Linked DNA regions of Homo sapiens: region 2 is linked to region 1. Evidence: fine-mapped expression QTL. A gene starts in region 1. The other region holds a variant in brackets. All regions are shown on one strand. Distances are between the middles of the regions.

Evidence for each region. PIP is the estimated chance that this variant, and not a neighbour inherited with it, causes the effect.
Region 2: its variant is the best candidate, but not a certain one, in a credible set for the expression of ELF2 in whole blood (TOPMed, PIP 0.62).

What each region holds. Positions count from the first base shown.
Region 1 is chr4:139,173,038-139,181,371 of GRCh38, reverse strand. ELF2 (E74 like ETS transcription factor 2) reads left to right here and starts at 4,154. Exons shown (of 10, transcript NM_001331036.3): 1 at 4,154-4,405. It overlaps LOC105379412 (a long non-coding RNA gene), which reads right to left and starts at 5,217. Exons shown (of 4, transcript XR_007058273.1): 1 at 5,024-5,217. RefSeq lists a cis regulatory region at 2,693-2,817, silencers at 3,184-3,563, 3,574-4,533 and an enhancer at 5,134-5,183.
Region 2 is chr4:139,204,161-139,212,494 of GRCh38, reverse strand. The region is part of intron 1 of LOC105379412 (a long non-coding RNA gene); the gene reads right to left. Among named protein-coding and RNA genes, the nearest start is that of ELF2, 31 kb to the right of the region's middle. The variant G/C (reference allele first, on the strand shown) is at 4,026.

The DNA.
Region 1 (8,334 bases):
TGCATATAATCATTTATATTTAGTATATAAATATATGTATATGTATATACATGCACAGAAAAAGGCCTAGAAGCTTAAAGGCTAAATTTTCATTTATGGTTATCTGTGGAAAAGTAGAGGTAGGGGATGGCTGCGTAAGTGTGAAGGGTAAGTGAGAAGTGGGAAGGGAAATGGAGAGGGAAGGTGAACTTGGGTTTTAAAAAGTTTATTTTGAATTATTTGAAAATTGATGATGAGAATGTATTAATGAATCATTGTATAATTAAAAAATAAACTATAATAAAAATAATTAAATAAAATATAAAAATAATTAAAAAATAAACTATATAACATAAAAAACTATATAACATAAAAAACAGCAAAAGCAATCCAGTTACAACAGAGATTTCCTATTCCATGATCATTAGCTTGCTACTAGGACTACTGGTCACACTAGACTTTTCCTTCTGACCCCTGTTCTCTAGAATGCTTTACTGTAAACCAGGGGTGTCCAATCTTTTGGCTTTCCAGGGCCACACTGGAAGAATTATTATCTTGGGCCACACATTAAATACACTAACACTAATGATAGCTGATGAGCTTAAAAAAAAAATCGCAAAAAAGTATTTTAAGAAAGTTTACAAATTTGTGTTGGGCTGCATTCAAAGCGGTCCAGGGCCGCATGCAGCCTGCAGGCCCTGGGTTGGACAAGCTTGCTGTAAAATTTCTGGGTTCCTTACTCCGCTGGCCTCCATAAGGGATGTGTTTAAGAACCATAGCCAAAGAGCTGCCTGAGACACACCAAGTTAGGCACCTTGCAGGCCAATATGAAGGAAGCAGATTGCTCTTTCTGCTGTTGTTTCAGTCAGCTATCACAACACTAATTCCAGGAACCAACTACTCCAAAACACTATTACTCCAAAACGCTATTACTCCAAAACACGGCTTGAAACAACAATCCTTTATTCTCTAGGTTGCTGACCCCAAGCTGGGACTGGCTTCAGACCTGCTTCATATTTCTTTGACCAGCAAACTAGCCAGGTATGTTCTTCACATTGTGAAAAACAAGAGTGCCAGAGAGGGAAGGAGAAACATGAAATACCTCTTGAGGCCAGGCTCAGAACTGTCACACTCACTTCTGCCTATCTTCCTTTGACCAAAAGCAAATGGACTGATCTAAGCTCAACATGAACAGGATGGAGAAACATCCTATCTCTACTGAGAGGAACTACAAAGCCGTATTTCAAATGGCATGCATGCATGGAGTAGTGAAAAATTGGGAACAATAATGTTATCTACCACTGTTATCCACCTGGGACTTTCCAGCTTACTGCCAATCGGCAGTGGGAGAGAATTTCTTCTCAACGTGGCTGACAACAGAAATTATGTGACTTGGCAGGTGATATCTGTCCCTAACAACAGGAATCAGTCTTTGTCTTTGCCGGCTCCTTAGTATGCTATGTTATGTTATGAAGATGCAATATTATTGATTATTAATTAATTCCTTACAAATATCAAATTGGGCAATGGTTCCCATAAGTGATAAGTTATTTACAAGAAGTGAGATAAAAAGACTCCCTTAGAAAGGGTGCTCTGTTTGCAGAATCCTGTTTATTGTGTATTAAAGATTTGAATGTTACCAAATTGTTACAAATTCTTTAGTTCAAAAGGGTGTCAACAGTCCCATGATTTAGAACTCAGGAATCCAGAAAACTTTGTCAAGAGTTAAGAGGATCTTTGATTAACAGTCACGGTCTCCAGGTTTCCTCTGTGTTCAAGAGTAAAAATTTCTTAAATAAGAATAAGAGCCCTCGGACTTGCTTTTTTTTGAGACGGAGTTTCGCTCTCGTTGCCCAGGCTAGAGTGCAATGGTGCGATCTGGGCTCACTGCAACCTCCGCCTCTCGGGTTCAAGCGATTCTCCTGCCTCAGCCTCCCGAGTAGCTGGAATTACAGGCACACACCACCACACCCGGCTAATTTTTTGTATTTTTAGTAGAGACGGGGTTTCACCGTGTTAGCCAGGATGGTCTTGAACTTCTGACCTCAGGTGATCCGCCCGCCTCGGCCTTCTAGAGTGCTGGGATTACAGGAGTGAGCCACCGCGCCCGGCCTTTTTTTTTTTTTTTTTTTTTTTTTGAGAAGGAGTCTTGCTCTGTCGCCCAGGCTGGAGTGTAGTGTTGCGATCTCGGCTCACTGCAACCTCTACCTCCGGGGTTCAAGCGATTCTCCTGCCTCCCGAGGAGCTGGGACTACAGGCGTGTGCCACCACGCCCAGCTAATTTTTGTATTTTTAGTGGAGACGGGGTTTCACCATGTTAGGCAGGCTGGTCTCGAACTCCTGACCTCAGGCAATCCACCCTCCAGGGCCTCCCAAAGTGCTGGGATTACAGGCGTGAGCCACTGCGCCCGGCCCAGAGTTGCTTTTTAAGAAAGGAAGAGAAGACTCACCCCCAAGAAAATAGAGGCAACAGCAGTATTAACAAAAGAAAGAGATCATTACATTCTTAGGCTCTTCAGGGATTTAAATCTGGAGCCTCCTGCAGCTTTCTGACATTTGAGCCTTACTCTAGGGTGATTTCCACGGTTCCCACGTCCCTTTCAAGAGAACAGCTATCACTTATATTCCTCAGTGTTTCTTCTTTGCTCCAGACTGGTTGTGAAGCCGTAAAAAGGGTAACGCTGGAGCCCAGAAATCAGCTGGTGAATACCGCGCCAGGTGCCAGGTCCATCGCGGCGAGGCTGCAGGAGCCCTGGAGGGGAGCAAAAGGAGCCCCGCGCGCACCGGACAGGCTGTGCTCTTTGTTAAAGAAACAAATACAGAAAACGCCGCGGCGGGGAATGGTGGTGGTGAAGAAATAGACTGAGGCGTTTGTATGCATTAACTGTGCCTACAAAGCCCATTAAAGAGACGCTCCTACACAGGGCAACCCACGGCACCGTGTCATTGGCTTTTGTGCACTTGAAGGCGCGTGAGAGTGCCCCGCTCGAAGGCTCCCCTTTGTGTGAAAGTGTGGAAACCAGAAGCGTGCAGCCACTGCTGGGTTTTCGTTTTCGAATTCGCAGGCACTTGGGCCAAAATACTCCCACACCAGAACACTCTCTCATTCTCGCACCAACAACACTCAGACTTGAGTTACTTCTCCGTTGCGGACCGCGCAAGGAGCGACAATGGCTAGGTGCGAGTGCCCGCAGCTCCCCGGGCAGCTCCAAGGGGCCGCCCGCCGCGCTCCGCAGCTGCGCGCTGGGCCCAGCCACCCGACAGCCAGCAAACGCCGGCACCAACCGCCGCGCGGCCGGGCTGTTGGGCGGGTGGTAATTTCTGGGAATGGGGCGGGGTCGCGGGTGTACTACGCCCGGCTTTTGCTAGCGGGGAGGAGGAGCTGGCGGCGCCGAGGGGCGCGAGGCTGGCGGGGCGGTGCGCCACGTGCGTCACCGGCCGGGGCGGGGCCGGCGTCGCGCTCCTGCCCGAACCCCCACCTTTCACTAAGCCAAGGCTGAGGAGTGGGAACTGGAAAGACCGGGCTAGGAGTTTTTGCAAAACCTCGCCCCCCTGTAACTGTCAGACTGCCCGACTGTGGGGCCGTCTCCGGAGAAGGGCGAGAGTCCTGAGTTGGGGATGCGGTGACGGCGGGGCCTGCGGGGGCCCTGAGTGGCGAGGGTGTGTGCGTGCGGTCCCGGCCGGCGGGGGAAAGCCGGCGGGCGCTGCAGGTGCACGCGCGGCCCCATCGGCCTCACACGCCTGCCCCGTGCGGCAGAGCCCCCTGCACCAATCCGGGGCTGGAGTGGAGAGCGAGATCGGGGAGCCCTGGGCAAGGAGCCGGACAAGTGACGAGCGTCTTTACCTGGGAAGGCGGGTTTGGGAGAAGTTGGGCGAGGAGAAGAGGGCGGGATTCAAGACAGCAAAAGAAGCAGGTTCGGCGGGCTGGTGGGGGCCCGAGGGCGGCGGGGCCCCGCGGGGTATAAATAGCCGGCCCGCGTTTGACAGGCGCTGCGGTGACTGGCGGTGCCGCCCCCGCCCCCCCGCCGCGTGGGGAGGGGAGGAGCACTCTGAGCTGGCGGGGAGGGGGAGGCGGACTCCAGTGTCCTGGTGGAGGCGGCAGGAGGCCGAGGGGGAGGAGCCGAGGCGGGGGGTGGAGGGAGGGGGCCGGGAGCGGAGCGGGGCGGGGGCAACCATTGCTCCCAGCGCCAAGCTCTGTGTCGCCGCCGTCGCCTAGGCGGTTGGGGGTCGGTGGGGCGGCGCGGGCGGGGGTCGCTGCGCGGGGCGGCGAGCCTCTGTTTTGTCTCCTTCTCTCCCTGTGGAGCGGCTCGGGCTGCTGGGGAGGCCCCGGCTCCCTCCGGACGCTCGGCCAACGGCGGCGGCTAGTCCGCGGCCCTGCTGAGAGGGAAAAGGACGCCGCGGTCTTCCCAGGCGTCGCGGAGAGCAGGTAAGAGCGCGGGCAGCCGAGGCTGGTGAGAGGGAGCGCGAAGGGCGCGGCGATAAAGCCTGGCTGTCCCGACTGCCGCCGCCTCCCTCCGCGCCCCCGCCCCGCGCTTGTGTTGTTTGCTTCGGGGTTTGCGGAGGGGTTTTCCGGCGGCTGCGGCGGTGACACCGGCCGGGGGCTGGGGGAAGGGGGCTGAGTGTCCCCAGGCAACGGTCGCGGAGCGGGACTTGGAGAAAGGGGAAGGCGCGCTGCGCGCCTGCCCGCGGGGAGCGCGGGGCGCGGGGCAGGGCTGAGGGAAGAGGTTACAGACCCCGGCGGGGGGGATGGGCCGAGCGCAGCTGGTCTCTCCGTGTTTACATCTCTGCGCGAGTCACCTCTGCCGAGAAGCGGACTGAACTGACCCGCCTCATCCCGCGGGGAGGCCAGGGCGGGGGTCCGGCTCCGGAGGAAGCGCGTCCTGGGAGGGTTTGTGTAGGGCGGGAGTCTGCGGCCGGCGCCGGGGCTGGGCGGCGAGCTCGGGGCGGGACCTGGGAGGCTCCGGCCGCTCTGGGTGGCGGGCAGGCGGGGGGGGGCGCTGGACACCAGTTTCCTTCCCTGTCGTGCCTTATCGCCGCCGCTTACCTTTCCTTCCCGGCGCTGCTAGCTTGCACGACAGGTTGTACTCGGCAGTTCTTTTATTCTCGCTCTCCACGCCGGCACCGTGCTGCCATCTCCCCCTATTCCCCGGGAGGTAGGGAGGCTTTGCTCGGATCGGAATCTGTTTCTTAAGCAAAACAAAAACGGGCTCGTAACAGGCACGTCCAGTGACCGCCTTCTGGATCCTCGCGAAGCTGGTCCTCAGGGACCGCGCGACGGGATGGTCTAGGGGCGCGGAAGGAGGACAGGGAGGGCTCTGCCAGGGCTGGATGCTGACTCTACCCCAGGAGCTTTGTGATCAGGGTAGCCGAGCCCTCTCTTCTGCTCCATTTGGGCATTTTTATTCCATGTCCATAAAGGACTCAAAAAATATTCCGTGACACCAAGAATAATCCAGATCGCACAGTTTCTAATCTTTTTCCCTCTGCCAGCATCCTGGATGGACTCTTTCTAGGAGGCAGATTCGCTGCAGAATAGCCTTTAAGTTTAGTACTTCATTAAATGAGGAAGAGGGGGACACGTCATTGTAAAACTGTTAAAAATTCCCCCCTTTCTTGTGTTCATGAACATTTACTTCAGCTTAATGGTTTAAATTGTAATCCGGTGATGAGAGAATAGTAATCGTGTGTTTGATAATCAGATTTGTTTTCCTTTTTATCTGTGATTCTCTATCCTGAAGTAAATTATGCACTTTCTTTGGTGCCAGAATCACGGAAGGATGTATGCTTTACTAAGAAAGGATTGGATATTTGTGTTTCAGAGTTTCTTCAAAAGGTAGAATGACTTATATAGGACTGGAAACCATTAAATTACATTTAAGGGAATTTAGGAATAATAAAACTTTTTATAGAGCATTACAGTTTACAGAGTACATTCATGTAAATATTATTGAGACGATATCTAGTAGTTAAACACATGAAATAGAAAATTGGAATATCCTGGGCATTTGAAGTTTGAATATTTATGTCAACCTATTTTTAAGTTTAGTGATTTAACTCATTGGATTTATCATTGCCTTTCATTTCAGACATAAATACTCATTTACAAAATAGTCAGCTTGAGTATGGTTGGAAAGAATTTGTAACTTTGGGATTTTTCTGTCCTAAGTAAACAGATTGGTACCTGTGGCCTGTAGGGTCTGCTAATGTTAGTGGCTTTACCTGCTCATGTTGTATACCATTTTTGGAGGAGTAACAGCTTCACGATGATATAATTCACATACTAGTCAGTTCAGTTTAAAGTGTACAGTTTGGTGGGTTTATTAATTTTTTAAAAAATTACTCCATTTTGCAGGTGAACAATTCAGTGGTTTTTACTACAATTGTCCATCGGTATCTGTTGGGGATTTGTTCTAGGGCCTTCCTCAGACACCAGAATCTATGGATGCTCAGGTCCCTAAAATAAAATGGCATAGTTGCTGGGTGCAGTGGCTTGTGCCTGTAATCCCAGTTATTCAGGAGGCTGAGGTGGGAGGATCTCTTGAGGCCAGAGTTTGGACACCAACCTGGGTGACAGAGCAAAATCCTGTCTCCTAGGAAAAATGAATAAAACTGACATAGTATTTGCATATAAACTCTGCATATTCTCTTGTATGCTTTAAATCATCTCCACATCACTCATACTACCTAATACAATGTGGATGCTATGTAAATAGTTGTTATACTGTGTATTGTTTAGGGAATAATGACCAGAAAAAAGTCTGTACATGTTCATTTACAGACATAATTTTTTTTTGAGTAGTTTCTGTACCTCATTGATTGAATCCATGTATTCAGAACTCATGGATATGGAGGGCCGACTGTATATTCAGAGTTGTGCAGCCATCACTATACTCAATTTTACAGCATTTTAATCATCCCCCAAAAGAGCCCCATATCCATTAACAGTCGCTTTTCATTTTCCCTCAGCACTCCCAGTCCTATGCAACCACTGATCGACTTTCTATCATTATAGATTAGACTGTTGTGGACATTTTATGTAAATGAAACCATAAATGCGGTCTTTTGTGACTGGCTTCTTTCGTTTAGCATAATGCTTTCAAAGTATATCCATGTTGTAATATGTGTCAGTACTTCATTTCTTTTTTTTTTAAAATCTATTTTCTTTCTTTCTTTTTTTTTTTTTTTTAAGATGGAGTCTCGCTCTGTCGCCTAGGCTGGAGTGCAGTGGTGTGATCTGGCTCACTGCAACCTCTGCCACCCGGTTCAAGCGATTCTCCTGCCACAGGCGCATGCCACAACACCTGGCTAATTTTTTTTTTTTTTTTGTATTTTTAGTAGAGATGGGGTTTCACCGTGTTAGCCAGGATGGTCTCGATCTCCTGACCTCGTGATCCGCCCGCCTTGGCCTCCCAAAGTGCTGGGATTACAGGGGTGAGCCACCGCGTCCGGCTAATCTATTTTCTTTTTTATAGAGATGGGGTTTCACCATATTACCCAGGGTAGTCTTGAACTCCTGGGCTTGAGCAATCCTCTCTCTTTGGCCTCTCAAAGTGCTGGGATTTCAGGCTTGAGCCACTGCACCTGATCCTTTTTAATTAAAAAAATTTTTTATAGTCTTTTTTTTTTTTTTTTTTTGAGACGGAGTCTCGCTGTGTTGCCCAGGCTGGAGTGCAGTGGCACGATCTCAGCTCATTGCAACCTCCGCCTCTCGGGTTCAAGCGATTCTCTTGCCTCAGCCTCCCAAGTAGCTGGGACTACGGGCGCGTGCCACCACGCCCGGCTAATTTTTTGTATTTTTAGTAGAGATGGGATTTCACTGTGTTAGCCAGGATGGTCTTGATCTCCTGACCTCATGATCCGCCTGCCTCGGCCTCCCAAAGTGCTGGGATTACAGGTGTGAGCCACTGCACCCACCCTGTAATCATTTTTTTTATTGATGAGTAATATTCTATTTATGGACATATTACATTTTATTTATCTGTGCATCAGTTGATGGACATTTAAGTTTCTATTTTTTTGGGCTATTATGCTGCTATGAATATTCATGTTTTTGTGTAGATGTGTTGTCATTTCTTTGGGTATGTACACTTTTTAATAAATTAGCTTTTGACTTACCTGATACCAAAAAAATTATCCATTTTGAGTATATAATTCAATAATTTTTAGTAAATATATAGATCGTGAAACTATCTATCACCTTGAGCTAGTTTTCGAACATTTCCATTGCCTCCAAAATTCCCTCCAGCCTGTTTGCAGTTAACCCTTATTCCCACCCCCAGCCTCAGGCAATCACTGATTGGTTTTGTCTTAATCCATTTGCTTTTACTGGATATTTTGTATAAGTGGAATTGTACA
Region 2 (8,334 bases), 31 kb before region 1:
TAGTAGACATGGAGTTTCACTGTGTTAGCCAGGATGGTCTCGATCTCCTGACCTTATGATCCGCCCGCCTCGGCCTCTCAAAGTGCTGGGATTACAGGCGTGAGCCACCGTGCTCGGCCAGCATCTTAAAATTCTTAATAATTTTTGAGTTAGTACACAAGGGGCCCTGCATTTCATTTTGCCTTAGGTGCCATAAATTATGTAGCCAGTCTTTTGGGTGAAAGCATTGTCTTCAGAAGGGTCTTTTTTTTTTTTTTTTTTTTTTTGAGAAAGAGTCTCGATTTGTCACCCAGGCTGGAGTGCAATGGTGTGATCTTGGCTCACTGCAACCTCCACCTCCCGGGTTCAAGCGATTCTCCTGCCTCAGCCTCCCAAGTAGCTGGGATTACAGGTGCCTGCTACCACACCTGGCTAATTGTTTTTTATTTTTAGTAGAGACCGAGTTTCGCCATGTTGGCCAGGCTGGTCTGAAACTCCTGACCTCAGGTGATCCACCCGCCTTGGCCTCCCAAAGTGCTGGGATTACAGGTGTAAGCCACCGCACCGGGTCCAGAAGGGCCTTATTTTAAGAGCAAACAATTTACCTGGAAAACATACCGTATTAATAATATACCAGTTAACACATTCGCATTTTATCACATTAATTAATGTGTTAATTAGTTAATTAAGAAATCAGCACTCTGAAGGATTGAAGCATAGAACCTCTGAATTTTTTTTTTTTTTTTTTTGAGATGGAGTCTTATGCCACCCAGGCTGGAGTGCAATGGCGCAATCTCCGGTTCACTGCAACCTCCGACCTCCAGGTTCAAGTGATTCTCCTGCCTCAGCCTCCTAAGTAGTTGGGATTACAGGCATGTGCCACCACGCCCGGCTAATTTTTGTGTTTTTGGTAGAGACAGGGTTTTGCCATGTTGGCCAGGTTGGTCTGGAACTCCTGACTTCAGGTGATCTGCCCACCTTGGCCTCTCAAAGTGCTGGGATTACAGGCGTGAGCCACTGCGCCCAGCCAAACCTCTGATTTTTGATGTGGAAAACCATCCTGACTAGGTTCACAACATGAATACTACCTGCCTCCCAGGGTCTCTGAGAGCATGGGTGGGAGGAGGTTAATGAAGTGCACTGAACACCAGAGGACTTGACATATTTTTGTTCAATGTCAGTACAAATAAAATGGGTGAATAAATGAATAAATCAATAAATGTTAGGTGCTAAGGGGAAGAATGGGGAAAACACAAGACTCAAATTTATGTGTGTGTGCGTGTGTGTGTATGTATGTATATATATATTCTATAAGGTATAGGCATACAAATTTAGAGCTCCATCCTAAAGTAGAAACTAAATGATTGCTTCCTATCTGAGCTACTTTGGCTTATGGTATGCACTATAAGAAAAGCCATGCCCTGGGTTGGGCGTGATGGCTCACACCTGTAATCCCAACACTTTGGGAGGCTGAGATGGGTAGATCACTTGAGGTCAGGAGTTTGAGACCAGCCTGTTCAACATGGTGAAACCCCGTCTCTAATTAAAAAAAAAAAAAAATTAGCTGGGCATGGTGGCACATGCCTATAATCCCAGCTACTTGGGAGGCTGAGGCAGGAGAATTGCTTGAACCCGGGAGGTGGAGGTTGCAGTGAGTGAGATCATGCCATTGCACTCCAGCCTGGGCAACAGAGTGAAACTCATGTCTCAAAAAAAAAAAAAAAAAGAAAGAAAAGAAAAAAAGAAAAACCATCCCCACTCTCCTAGTCACAGCAAATGGGATTAAGGACTGAAGCACAGGCTGAAGGCAGTAGCATAAAGCATGATGAGGGCCAGCTGGCTTTGCAGCACTCTGGCAGGCACTCTTGTCCAAGGATGATACTCTGCAATAAATGATGACAAGTCCACTCAAATAAAACATCTCTTTTGGGAAATATAAATACTAGATATACCAAGAAGAAGATGAATAGTTTTAGATAAGATTGCTGTTATGAATAAAGATCCTGGTTCCTGTAGTACCTTTTGCACAATCTCATGAAATATAATGCAGCTGGATGAGGCAATTTCCAGAGCTACCTGCCTTTCTTGAAACCCCAAATCCTTATATATCCTTGCAATACACTCTGTCATTGATGATAACCCATGTGTGTGTTCCTTCAATCTTAAACAAGCTAGCTAATTCAGAACACACTAATAATATTGCTATAACAAAAAATTTTACAGCCAGGCAGGCGTGGTACCTCACGCCTGTAATCCCAGCACTTTGGAAAGCCAGAGGTGGGCAGATTGCTTGAGCTCATGAGTTCGAGACAAGTCTGGGCAACATGTGAAACTCCATCTTTGCAAAAAATACAAAAACTAGCCAGGTGTGGTGGCGCACGCCTATAGTCCCAGCTACTTGGGGGGCTGAGGTAGAGGGATCATTTGAGCCTGGGAGGTTGAGGCTGCAGTGAGCCATGATCATGCCACCGCACTTGAGCCTGGGTGACAGAGCAAGACACTGTCTCAAAAACCAACAACAAAAATCCAAAACAACAAAAAACAAATCTTACATAGACCAGGTGAAAGCAACCCCAATGTGCATTAATGGATGAATGGATAAATAAAATGTGGTATATATATATACAATGGAATATTATTCAGCCTTCAAAAGGGAGAAAATTATGTCACATGTTACAACATGGATAAGTCTTGAGGACACTATGCTAGGAAAAATAAGCCAGTTACAAAAAGACAATTGGTGTATGATTCCACTTATATGAGGTATATAGAGTAGTAAAATTCATAGACGCAGAAAGTAGAGGGTGGCTGCCAGAGGCTGGGGGGAGGAGGGAATGGGGAGTTACTGTTTAATGGGTATAGAGTTTCAGTTTCGTAAGTTAAATAAGTTCTGAATATCTGTTGTACAACAGTGTGAACCTACTTAGCCCTACTGAACTGATTAACACTTAAAGTGGTTAGGATGGTAAATTTTATATTATCTTTTTTTTTTACCACAATTTAAAACATTTAAATTATTTACATTTATATTTATTTTATTTTATTTTTTGAGACTGGGTCTTGCTCTGTTCCCCAGGCTGGAGGGCAATGATGGGATCATGGCTCACTGCAACCTTGATCTCTTGGGCTCAAATAATCCTTCCACCTCAGCCTCCCAGGTAGCTGGGACCACAAGCTTGAGCCACTGTGCCTGGCTAATTTTTTAAAAATTTTTTTGTAGAGAGAGAGTCTCACTGTGTTGCCCAGGCTGGTCTTGAACTACTGGGCTCAAGTGATCTTCCTGCCTCAGCCTCCCAAAGTGCTGGATTTACAGGTGTGAGCCACTATGCCTGACTGCTTTCTTATGAAATTGTGGCTTTTACCAAAATATACACTTTAAGATTGCTAAAATGATGTTAACCATTATGTACTATACTTAACTACTTTCACAGTGGTAGAGCTCCCGACACTTTTGGAGGATGAAGCAGGAAGATTGCTTGAGGACAGTAGTTCAAGACAAGCCTGGGCAACATAGTGGGACCTTGTCTCTACCAAAAAAAAAAAAAAAAAAAAAAAAAACCAAGTATGATGGTGCACCCCTGTAGTCCCAGCTACTTGGGAGGTTGAGGATGGAGGATTGCTTGAGCCCAGAAGGTGGAAGCAAAGCTGCAGTGAGCCCTGATCATGCTACTGTGTGACAAAGTGAGACTCTGTTAAAAAAAAAAAAAAAGAAAGCAAACTTATCTCTTAACCATGAGAATCCTATTGTGAAAACTGTCAGAATCAAAATGGAGTCACTTTTGTTAAAAGAAAGAAAGAAAACAACAACAACCAAAAAAAAAAAAAAAAACAAAAAAAAAACCCAAAAAACCAAACCCTGACAAATAGCGCTAGGGAAGGCCGTGAAGGAAGTGTTTTCTCATGAATAAATGCTGGATGACAGAAACTATTACAAAAGACTCTGCAAAAACCACAATCTTGCACAAAGGCCATCATGCAGATGTTCTGTGAGGACATCTGCTCAGCAACTGCCTGTCCAACCTTGGATTGACGTCACCCTTGTTATT[G/C]ATCTTTGTAGCCAAGGATAATTATCTCAAAACAATTATGTAATCCTTCTCATGTTTTCTTTAAAAACCTTTGTCTTTCTTTATGTGATGGTTAATATTAGGTGTCAACTTGACTGGATTGAGAGATGCCTAGATGGCTGGTGAAGCATTATTTCTGAAGGGTGTTTTCAGAGGAGATTGACATGTGAGTCAGTGGACTGTGAGAGGGTGATGCACACCCACCCACCCACCCTCAATGTGGGTGGGCACCATCCAATCTGCTGCCAGCGCGGCTAGAGCAAAGCAGGCGGGAGAAGGGATGTTCAGCTTGCTGAGCTCTCTCTCTCTCTCTCTCTCTCTCATTCTCCTTTCGCATGCCAGATACTTGCTTCCTTTCCTCCTGCCTTTGGACATCAGACTCCAGGATCTTCGCCTTTAGACTCTGGGACTTGCACCAGTGGCGTTCAGGGGCTCTTGGGCCTTTGGCCTCAGCCTGAGAGCTGCACTCTTGGCTTCCCTAGTTTTGAGGCTTTCAGACTTGGACTGAGCCACATTACCAGCTTTTCTCTTTCCCCAGCTTACAGAGGGCCTATTGTGGCCTATTGTGGGACTTTGCCTTTTAATTGTGTGAGCCAATTCTCCCTAATAAACTCCTGTTTTTACATACATATATCCTATTGGTTCTGCCCGTCTGGAGAACCCTAATACACTTTACTTTCCATGAATATGCATATTGTTTACTATGGCATGCATATTCCCACTGCAATGTCCTATTCCTGAATAAATATTTTCTTTTAGAGAGCCTCTCTCTGTTTATATATTTAGGTTGACATTATCTATAGGAATTACCACTTTTTGGGTATAAGACATAACCAAGACACCTTGGTTCCACTGTTGACAACATAGTTAAATTTGGTCAAGTGTCAAGGACACTTTACAAACTGAAACCTGTAAAGTGATGACTAATTTACCTTCACTTCTCACAGTGCGGATTGTCAGTTCTGGGAGTCTGCTTTGTCCATTTGAGTTTGGGTCATGGAGGACAGAAGTGAAGTCAAAGGCATGCTGAGGAAGGAACTCTGAGTGGCCATTCACAGTGTGTCCTTGACAGCACTTCCGTTCTCTATTTTATGAGTGTCTCTGCCCCACATGCTTCTGAACTAGCATTTTTACCCCTTCCCACCCAGTTATAGTCCGGTTAGAAGGAAATATGTTTTCCTCTGTTCCCCTCCACCACTGCAGCAAATAAAGAGAGGAGGCAATGGGAGTGTCATCAAAAAGACATGGTACAAATTTAAACAAGCATTCTCTTGTCAGAACAACTTTAAAAAATTTCAACATTGGTGTAACAAGATAGGTAGTATACCCTGTTTCAGGAGAAAGCAAGCAAACTTGGTTTTGTTGACCTATAAAAGACTGTTGACAGTCACTAAATCAGAAATATTAGGAATTTAAAAGATATTGGAAAATGAGACAAATCTTTTTCTTTTTTTTTTTTTTGAAACGGAGTCTCATTCTGTCACTCAGGCTGGAGTGCAGTGGCGCGATCTTGGCGCACTCCAACCTCCGCCTCCTGGGTTCAAGCAATTCTCCTGCCTCAGCCTCCCATGTAGCTGGGACTACAGGCACACGCTGCCATGCCCAGCTAATTTTTTGTATTTTAGTAGAGACAGGGTTTCACCATGTTGCCCAGGCTGGTCTCGAACTCCTGAGCTCAGGCAATCCGCCCACCTCGGCCTCCCAAAGTGCTAGGATTACAGGCGTGAGCCACCACGCCTGGCTGAGACAAATCTAATTTTCAGACATGCTGTTGTCAGGGTAATACAAATGAAGTCCTTTTGAATTCTACTAGGTTTGTTCCCAACAGTTTAAAGCTATTTCAGGCTGCTTGAGAATAACTTGCCTAGGTGTGTACTGAAAGATTTAAACAGAAGAGGGGCACCAAGTCAGAGAGCTTCAAACACCATGCTCACCAGAGGGAGGGGAGAGGGAGAGAGAAGATGGCATGAAGGGGAGGGAGAGGGAGAAAACTGAAGCAGAAGGATAGAGGGACAATTGGTGGATGAGAATTTATAATGAAACCCAATTGCAATTTGAAAAGGAAAACTGTAAGTCAGGAAGGAAGTGAATATTTGTGTGATTTCTCTTTCCATGCTGGAAAGCAACTGGGATTTGGTGCATAAGGTAGAATTTGTGAATGATGTTGCAAAGGAGGGGTGGACTTGAGAGGACTGAAAGAGGTAGACTGCATACTAAATATAAGTGCCAAGTGTAAACAAAGGAAAGAAGTAACTGAAAAGGTCCTTTCTGTGTTTCTTTTCTTTTATTCTTTTTTTTTTTTTTTTGAGATGGAGTCTTGCTCTGTCACCTAGGCTGGAGTGCAGTGGTGTGATCTCTGCTCAGTACAACCTCCACCTCCCGGGTTCAAGCGATTCTCCTGCCTCAGCCTCCTGAGTAGCTGGGATTACAGGCATGCATCACCACCTCCGGCTAATTTTTGTATTTTTTAGTAGAGACGGGGTTTCACCGTGTTGGCCAGGCTGCTCTGGAACTCCTGACCTCAAGTGATCCACCTGCCTTGGCCTCCCCAAAGTGCTGGGATTACAGGCATGAGCCACTGTGCCCAGCTCTGTGTTTCATTTTCTAAAGAAATGGACAAAAAGGCTGGACTATGAAGAAGCAAATAGTTTTTGTCTTACTGACATTTCCTTCCATTTTAATTTTTTTAACATGAAAGTCTTTCAATAAATTTTATAAAATTCTATTCTAGAAGGAAAAATATCATAGTTTATGCTTTTTTTCTACATTGGAAAATTACTTTTCAAATATTGTAGGTAAATTATTGGGAGGAGGGTCAGGAATTTAGTTTTTCCTGGTTAAATCAATAAAGTAAAACTTCATAACATGATAGAGCAAATTTTAGGGTCATACAGTTCAAAACAAATATTTCAATATCCCACTGTAAGAATAATTTCTTGATTTTTACATCTGAGATTTTCCTTCTCCAAGAGAACTGCCCACACTCTTCCCCACTGCAGGACATTTGAACAAGGGCTAAGCTCTTCCTGCTGTAAGAAAGCCTGTTCAGAGCAGCACTGTCCAGCAGAAATGGAGTGCCAACTCTGTGGGTAATTTTTAATGTTTTAGTAGTCACATTTTTAATTATTTATTTATTTATTTATTTTTTGAGATGGAGTCTCACACTGTCACCGAGGCTGGAGTGCAACAGCACAATCTCGGCTCACTGCAACCTCCACTTCCCAGGTTCAAGCGATTCTCCTGCCTCAGCCTCCCAAGTAGCTGGGATTACAGGTGCCTGCCACCACGCCCAGTTAATTTTTTGTATTTTTAGTAGAGATGGGATTTCACTATGTTGGCTAGGCTGGTCTCGAACTCCTGACCTCGTGATCAGCCTGCTTTGGCCTCCCAAAGTGCTGGGATTACAGGCATGAACCACCGCACCCTGCCTACATTTTTTAAAAAGTAAAAAGAAAGAGATGAAATTAATTTTTCAAGTATATTTTACTTTACTCAGTAATTCAAAATATTACCTGATATCAAGTCATCAATGAACAGTTATTAATAACCTATTTTACCTTCTTTTTTTAGTACTAAGTCTTTGAAATAAGGAGTATTTTACTCTTATAGCACATCTCAATTTGGACAAGCTACATTAAAAGTGCTCAAAAGCCACATATGGCTAAGTTGCTAGTGGACATCATACATCCAGAACGTATTTTTTGGTCATGGAAAAATACGCAACCAATCAGTTAAGCGGCAAATTTAATAATGTGTCTAAAATGCACAGCCATCTAATTTAAATAAGCCCAATTCTATGTTAACTTTTAAAATAATTTATTAACAGTTACTAAAATTACTGAATATCCTTTTCACTCCAAATGTTTACAGATTCCTTCCCCAGCCACCCACCTTTGGATATAAGAATAAGAAAGGAAAGTTTCAATGTGAAAGTAATTTTATTTTCATTTTCAACAAAATCATTAAACTACTTTTGATATATGTATCTGGGGATCAGGGAAGTCATTTGCACACTGTCTTTAGTAATTGCAAAGACAATATTCAAAAGCACTAAGGGTAAAAATCTGAGAGGCTGGTGTCTGAGGAATAGCAGTTGTTTTATAGCCTTAAAACAGAAGTACAGGAAAAAAATTTTAAGTGATTTACATTACTTTTGTAAATATTGAAATTATATTTTATAGTGACAATGCTATTATGCACATTTTTCCATACAGATCAACATAATGTTGCAATTTTTCTTTTAACTGCTACAGTTTCTCTATTCCAATAACTTAGTAGCATAGCTTCAAAA